2 linked regions of the Homo sapiens genome follow. The protein of the gene in region 1 purifies or fractionates together with the protein of each later gene. This does not show direct contact. Each region holds a gene or a part of one and is shown in the gene's direction. Other genes may lie near its edges. The genes, in order: ADD3 and ASAP1.

Region 1 (3,820 bases):
ATTGTTTTTCAATTCAGATTCGGGAACAAAATCGATATGACTTGAAAACAGCAGGACCACAATCTCAGTTGCTTGCTGGAATTGTTGTGGATAAGCCACCTTCTGTAAGTTTATGAAGTAGTATGATCTTTGTTTTTTATTTACCACATTAATTTCATTGATTTTTAAATATGAATATTTATTTTTACTAAGGTTAATATAAGCACAAGTTAAAAAGTCAACTCACAAGATTTAAAATGTCACCCACAATTCCCAGTTTCCAGGTGCAGCAACTTTCTGTTCTTTTCATTGCTTCTAATGTTTACTTTGGTGTTTCTGGTTAGTTAGTTGAGATGAGGTCTCACTCTGTTGCCCAGGATAGTCGTGAACACCTGATCTCAGGTGATCCTCCAGCCTTGACCTCCTGAAGTATTGGGATTACAGGTATAAACCACTGCTCCTCGTCCTCCTTTGATGTTTCTAAAGAGCATCTTCTGCTTTTTCTTGGTCTATCAGTTTTAGACCTTGACTATTTTTCATCAAATCTGTGTTATCCGTTATAAGAAGTACCATTGTTTTATATGTCACTAAAAGAGAAAAAACACTGCCAATTATAATTGTTCCCAATTTCAGAGATGGAAAAAGTTCATCTTAGAATTAATGAAATATTTTTGAAAGATGGGGATTTAGCCTGTTTATACAGTGCTTCCCTTTTTCCCTCTCCCCATTCTCCCAGTAAGGATACATCACAGTTTTTGTTTTTTGTTTTTTGTTTTTTTCTGTTAGATCAGCTTTCGTTATTTATATTACTACATGTTTGCTGCTAAGCCAGGTAGTATTTCCTTTCTTACATAAGTCACCCCTCCCTACTCTCACCTTGCCTTTTTTTCATTGGCTTATTATTTGGGGTACATTGGCTTAGTTCTTCCCGAACTTTTTAAAAGAATTATAAAGTCCCGGCTGGGTGCAGTGGCTCACGCCTGTAATCCCAGCACTTTGGGAGGCCGAGGCGGGCAGATCACGAGGTCAAGAGATCAAGACCATCCTGGCCAACATGGTGAAACCCCATCTCTACTGAAAATACAAAAATTAGCTGTGCGTGGTGGCGTGCACCTGTAGTCCCAGCTACTCAGGAGGCTGAGGCAGGAGAATCACTCGAACCCGGGAGGCAGAGGTTGCAGTGAGCCAAGATCATGCCACTGTACTCCAGCCTGGTGACAGAGCGAGACTCCGTCTCAAAAAATAAGAATAACATAAAATCTGTCCTAATATTATTTTCCACAGGGTGAAAGTCAACAGGTAATCTCTCTGTTCCAGCCCCCCTTCATTCTGATCCAAATCTAAATTGGTTGCTCTCAGGCCAGCTGCACAGGTTCATCTGGAGGATTCCTGTGCTGCTGATCTATATTGTATTCCGTTTCCTGTATCTTGTGTCTTCTGCTTTCTTGATTTCCTCCTTTACTGTAGAACGCACCCTCTAATAGCTTTCCGAGAAAAGGATACATAGGTGGTAACAGTCTGAAATGCCTTTATTCTATCTTCAAATGTGCATATAATGGATATAGAATAGTTTAGAAATAATTTTCCCCTGAAATAAGAAAAGCATCATTCTGTTCCCTATTTTATTGTTGAAGTAGGAAGGCATTGGAATTCCTGAACCTTTGTTTAGGATTTTTTTTTTTTTTTTTTTTTTGCTTTTAGACCCTTTCTGCATCCCTGCTGTTCTGAAATTTTATGATTGTGTGCTGATCTCTTTTTAGTCTTTTTTCTAAGTAATTAGTAACCCTTTTCAATCTCCAGAGTCATATCCTTCAGTTCTGGAAGTTTTTTAAAAGTGTTTCTTCAAGAGTGTTTTCTTCCCATTTCTTTTTCTGTCAGTATATTATGTTAGTTTGGATGTTGGGCCTCTTTGAGCCTCTGATTTTTTTCTTTTCTCTCCTACTTGCCATCTCTTTATCTTTGTATCCTACTTTCTGGGAGAATGTTTTCTAACCCTTTTAATTTTTTATTTTGATGTTAACTTTTTTAATTTATTTTATTTTATTTATTTTTTTTGAGATGGAGTCTCGCACTGTTGCCCAGGCTAGAGTGCAGTGGCGCGATCTTGGCTCACTGCAAGCTCCGCCTTCCTGGGTGCACGCCATTCTCTGCCTCAGCCTCCCAAGTAGCTGGGACTACAGGCGCCTGTCACCGTGCCCGACTAATTTTTTTTGTATTTTTAGTAGAGACAGGGTTTCACCGCGTTAGCCAGGATGGTTTCAATCTCCTGACCTCGTGATCTGCCCGCCTTGGCCTCCCAAAGTGCTGGGATTACAGGCGTGAGCCACCACGCCCAGCCAACTTTTTTATTTTTAATAAGAGTTCTTATTCCCTGAATGTTCCTTTTTAATAACATCCTGATCTTTACACTTTCTCTTATTGCTCTAAGGGTATCAATTTTAAATTTTCTTCATTTGCCTTTGTTGTCTTTGTCTATTCTGAGTTGTTCCGTATGTCTGTTTATATGGAAGAATGAGACATTAAAGCATATCAGAAGCTCTGGGTATACACAGAGCTCGGGGATTGGTGGGCTTCACTGTAGGGTGATTGGATGTGGACCAGGTTGTTTCTCTGGGGAATCCCCAAACATTATTCTCTGTAATTCTTTTATCTGGGACTATTTAGTTTATCTGGAAAAGAACTCCAGTCTCCTGCCAGTTTCCAACCATCATTCTAGGAGCCTGCAACTGTATTTTGTGTCCCCTAGTTAGTTTTTCTTTCTTTCTTTCTTTCTTTTTTTTTTTTTTTTGAGACGGAGTTTTGTTCTTGTTGCCCAGGCTGGAGCGCAATGGCGTGACCTCAGCTCACGGCAACCTCCGCCTCCCGGGTTCAAGCCATTCTCCTGCCTCAGCCTCCTGAGTAGCTGGGATTACAGGCATGCACCACCATGCCCGGCTAATTTTGTATTTTTAGTAGAGGCAGGGTTTCTCCATGTTGGTCAGGCTAGTCTCGAACTCTGGACCTCAGGTGATCTGCTCGCCTTGGCCTTCCAAAGTGCTGGGATTACAGGTGTGAGCCACCGCGCCCAGCCTAGTTTTTCTTTCTCAAGCCTCTGATCTTCTGCAGAGATGAGAGAGAGGGAAATGCTTGGCTCTGTGGAATAGGGAAGGGAACCTGGGAATCTGTTTCCTATTCAGACTTTGAACATGTTCCTCTATTTTCACCTTTTCCTTACCACCACCTTCTATGGTACCTATTGCCTCTAGTTTATGGGCCTTACCAGACCTCTTCAGGGCAAATAAGCATGCTTCTCATTTGCATCCTTTTTTTCAGGACTGAGGCTTCAACTTTCTCAGCTCTGCTACCTGCTGTTCCACTTGCATTCCAGCTTCCAAAAATATGTTAACATTTCTCATCCTTTGTTGTTTCATCTCACATTCTTTTGTCCTTAAGGGTGTTTTGTTTTGTTTTTTTCTATTCCTTTACTATCATTTTAGTGGGGTTTTGGGAGGGATGAAAAATAAATACATGGGTTCCATATGCCAACTGCAACTGAAATTCTCATTATTTCCTTTCCTGGAGAAAACAGCTACAAGCTTATTTTCGTAACAGATTTAAAGAACTACTTTTGGTACAGTTTCATTTCTGTAAGCCTTTTTTACAGTGGTCTTTAAAATGGAGCAATTCTTGTTTTTTTCAAGTTTTTTTTATGTGAAACTTATTAGAACTTGGCATAATGGTTTTTAAAAATTATTAAGATTTACTTATACAGGCTTATTGAGGAAATATCACTGGCAATTTTAGTCCATTGGATTAGTAGTTTAAGGGCATCAATCTTACAAGAGCATTTTAAACAAAGCAT
Region 2 (3,820 bases), on another chromosome or scaffold:
CTGTAATTTCAGCACTTTGGGAGGCCAAAGTGCGAGGTTCCCTTGAGCCCAGGATTCATGACCAGCCTGGGCAACATACAGAGAAACCGTCTCTATAAAAAATAAAAATTAATTAGCTGGGCATGGTGGTACATGCCTGCGATCCCAGCTACTTGGGAGGCTAAGGCGGGAAGATTGCTTGAGCCCTGGAGATCGAGGCTGCAGTGAGCGTAATCATGCCACTGCACTCTAGCCTGGGCAACAGAGTGAAACCCCGTCTCAAAAAAAAAAAAAATTTAAATGTTGCAGTAAAAGTGTGTCATATCAATACTTAAATTAAGAAAAATAAAACCCATCTTCCTGTAGGTTGGAGGCTGCCGTGTCTGATGGTGGATACTTCTGCTATTCAAAAGGGAACTCTCCCATGACTCCCAAGCACCACTGATGCAAAATTTTCATTTCATGCTACACACTATATAGTTTTATTATGTCATTTAATCTCTGTGTTATAAATTAACACACTACAGGCCTCTCAGTTGCTCACGCAGTCACTGCCACAGTTCTGCCAGGCTTCTCCAACCCACCCGCACGGCCCAGAAGGGAGCTCGGAAAGCAGCTGGAACTATCAGGGTGATTAAAGGAGAAACCAGGGGACAGAGAGGAAGAGGCACTCCACCCAAAACATTTAAAGAGACAGCTTGCTTTTTTTAAAATTGCCAATTAGCCAGGTGCAAAACAAAAACCCATCATTTAGAAGGTGATACCTCTATTTTCACTTTTCTATTTGCAAAGAACTGGAAGTTCAACAAATAAATGCTCAAATCAAAACTAATCAAAAATTAAAACTGTTTTAGGAACTGCATAGACTTCTCCGAGCCCCAGGCCGATCCTGCTGTGTTTAACCAGCATGTACTGACTTGCTGTTTTGCATGAGGGGACTGACAAATTTGTTTATGCTGCACATTCATTATGCAGAAGCTGCAGATTTTGCTTTACATCATGTTTCCTAAAAACATTTTTAGACTCTGCTGTCATTCTGCAAGCTGATGTGGGTTGGGGGTGCGTACAGAGTGCTTGATGGTTTTTGGTGAAGCTCAATTTTGATCCCTACCCATAGTGTTTGCTTTCTGGTGAAAATAACTTGATGATGCCCAATCACCAATGCAGGGCCACCCTGATGATGGGGGGAGAGGAAGGGCCTGTAGTTAAGAGTACACAGTATGCTGGGTGCCTGACAGACACTCTTCTTCCCGCCCTTCAAGGGTGAGGAAATCAAGGCTCAGCGAGGTTAAGTTACTGGCCAAGGTCAACCATTTTACAAAGAACCGCTGCTCTTTTTTTCCATTCAGTCCATTCTTTCAATTAAAACCCAGTTTCTTTCTTTAAGGGGAAAAATAAAGTGAGGCGAGTGAAGACCATTTATGACTGCCAGGCAGACAACGATGACGAGCTCACATTCATCGAGGGAGAAGTGATTATCGTCACAGGGGAAGAGGACCAGGAGTGGTGGGTACGTACGAATATCCATCCACTTCATCCGTACATTCATACAGCATGCCTGGGCAGGCACCACATTGGAGCCTACAGACAGTGCAGTAAAAGAGGGCTCTTGAGCACAAGGACCCTGTCAGCTGCATCACTCACCCAACAGCCATTGCATTTGGTGTCTTTTCTATGTCACACACTATTACATGCTAGAAAAACAGCCGTGGAGCTGGCCGGGCACAGTGGCTCACGCCTGTAATCCCAGCACTTTGGGAGGCTGAGGCGGATGGATCTCGAGGTCGGGAGTTCGAGACCAGCCTGGCCAGCATGGTGAAACCCCGTGTCTACTAAAAATACAAAAAATTAACTGGGCATGGTGGCACGCACCTGTAGTCCCAGCTACTCGGGAGGCCAAGGCAGGAGAATCGCTTGAACCCGGGAGGCACAGGTTGCAGTGAGATGAGATCACACCACTACACTCCAGCCTGGGCAACAGAGCGAGACTCCATCTGAAAAAAAAGAAAAACAGCCATGGGGCTTTGAAGACAGGTCAAGAGAATTAACATTTGTATGTACTTTACCCATGGTATCATGTAACCTTGTGAGTTGTAGGCATTTTCTGATTTTTCATATAAATACTAAAGCGGAAGAAAGTTGAGCATGTTGCCTGTGGTCCCTCAGCCAGTAAGCAGGCTAAGTCAAGATTCCAGATCGGCCCTGACCCCAGAGCCTATGTGCTTTGCTCACCATTCCACACTGTCCCCAGGCTGGGAATCAGAATGCCCAAGTTCCTGCTCAGGCTGAGCAGTTGACAAGTCCTCAGACTCAATTCTTAATCCAGTCTGCAGTTCTTTCTTTGTCAAATAGGCCAAGACACCTTCTCCACGTAATTTTAGGAAAAGATTAAATGAAAATATCTATGAAAACTCCTTTTACATTAAAACCTGCAGCTCAGGCATCAGGAGGGAAAGACATCAGCATCCTCATAGGCCCTGCTAGGTACCCAGGCTGTGAGTGACCTGCGAGGGCAGTCCACACATCTATTGGTTTTCACGTTGCCAGGGAGTAAGTCTCCCGATGGGAACTGCCAGGCCAAGGTACAGTGAATAAGCCACCTCTTCTGCTCTCCTTGTTGATCATTTCCTGACATCAGGGTGAAAATTCCCCTTCCTTGGCAGCCTGAGCCCCGTCCTGCCAAGAGGGACTCAGTTCTGTCTGCCAGGAAGGGACCTGAGGCTCGCAGTTGAGCCAGCAGTACCTAAGAATACCCAGAAATACATATGTATATACATGTGTGCACACACACATAGGCATGGGCACACATTCACCTTTGACTTTTCTTCCTTCAGGCCTAGACAGTGACCTCAGATTCTTAATCACAGCTGTAGGGATTTTGTTTGGACTCAACTGGGGCAATTTTGCCCTCCAGGGACATTTACAATATCTGGAAATATTGATTGTCAGGACCTAGGAAGGGGGTTGCTACCAACAACTAGTAGATGGAAGTTTAGTGGCCAGGGATGCCACTAAACATCCTCCAGTACTCAGGGAGCCCCCACAAGCAAGGATGCCAGTAGCACCATGGTTGAGAAACTGGACTGAAGGGATCAGCCTGGGGAGGCCCAGGGGTACCTCCAGCCTCTGTCAGCAGAGTGGGGCCAGCCCCTGGCATGAAGCCTGTCAGAGAGTCCACTTCATCTCATGACGAGGAGGTGGGCTCTGAAGCCCCCCCACGTGAATCAGTTACTAGCTCTATGGGCCTTGGATAAAGCATGTCCCTTCTGTAAGCCTCACTTTCCTCTGAAAAATAGGACATGATTAATCGTTTCTCACAAGGATGTTGAGGAACTCACTTTGTAATCTGTTAATATTATTATAATCAAGCAGTGATCATGTTCTTTGCTAAGCAACTGATGACTACAGCAGAGATACCTGCGGGGAATGGGAAGCTGTCATTGGTGTCCCTAGCATCATTCCTAGGGGACATTGTGTGTGCCACCATTACGTGCCTCGCCAGATGTAAAGATGGTGCCACACACACATGCTAACTGTGATGTGAAATTCACAAAGACCTCACACATGCATGATGCCAACTAAGACCACACGCGGTGGGTGGGCAAGCCTTCAGGAGAGCTGGGCAGGCCTGGTTGACTCTGTTCCACTCTTAAAACCACCTTCCTCTCTATCGATTTGGCATTGGAAGCCAATATGCACGATTTTGTTTTTTCTATTGAAGGCCCATTACATGATTCTCTTTAGTGCAATCAATACTAATCTAATTGAGGTAATTAGAAAATTTTTACAGGTAACTGGCTTACAGGCCAATGCAGCAGACAATAAAATTGCCATTCGCCAC

The links.
Region 2: the proteins of ADD3 (region 1) and ASAP1 fractionate together in Homo sapiens (co-fractionation; one large-scale study listed by BioGRID). This does not show direct contact.

Annotation. Positions count from the first base shown.
Region 1 is NC_000010.11:110,126,400-110,130,219, forward strand, and holds part of ADD3 (gamma-adducin), read left to right. Parts: intron 1-17; coding exon 18-104; intron 105-3,820. UniProt on the Homo sapiens protein: Membrane-cytoskeleton-associated protein that promotes the assembly of the spectrin-actin network. Plays a role in actin filament capping. Binds to calmodulin.
Region 2 is NC_000008.11:130,055,623-130,059,442, reverse strand, and holds part of ASAP1 (arf-GAP with SH3 domain, ANK repeat and PH domain-containing protein 1), read left to right. Parts: intron 1-1,366; coding exon 1,367-1,489; intron 1,490-3,820. UniProt on the Homo sapiens protein: Possesses phosphatidylinositol 4,5-bisphosphate-dependent GTPase-activating protein activity for ARF1 (ADP ribosylation factor 1) and ARF5 and a lesser activity towards ARF6.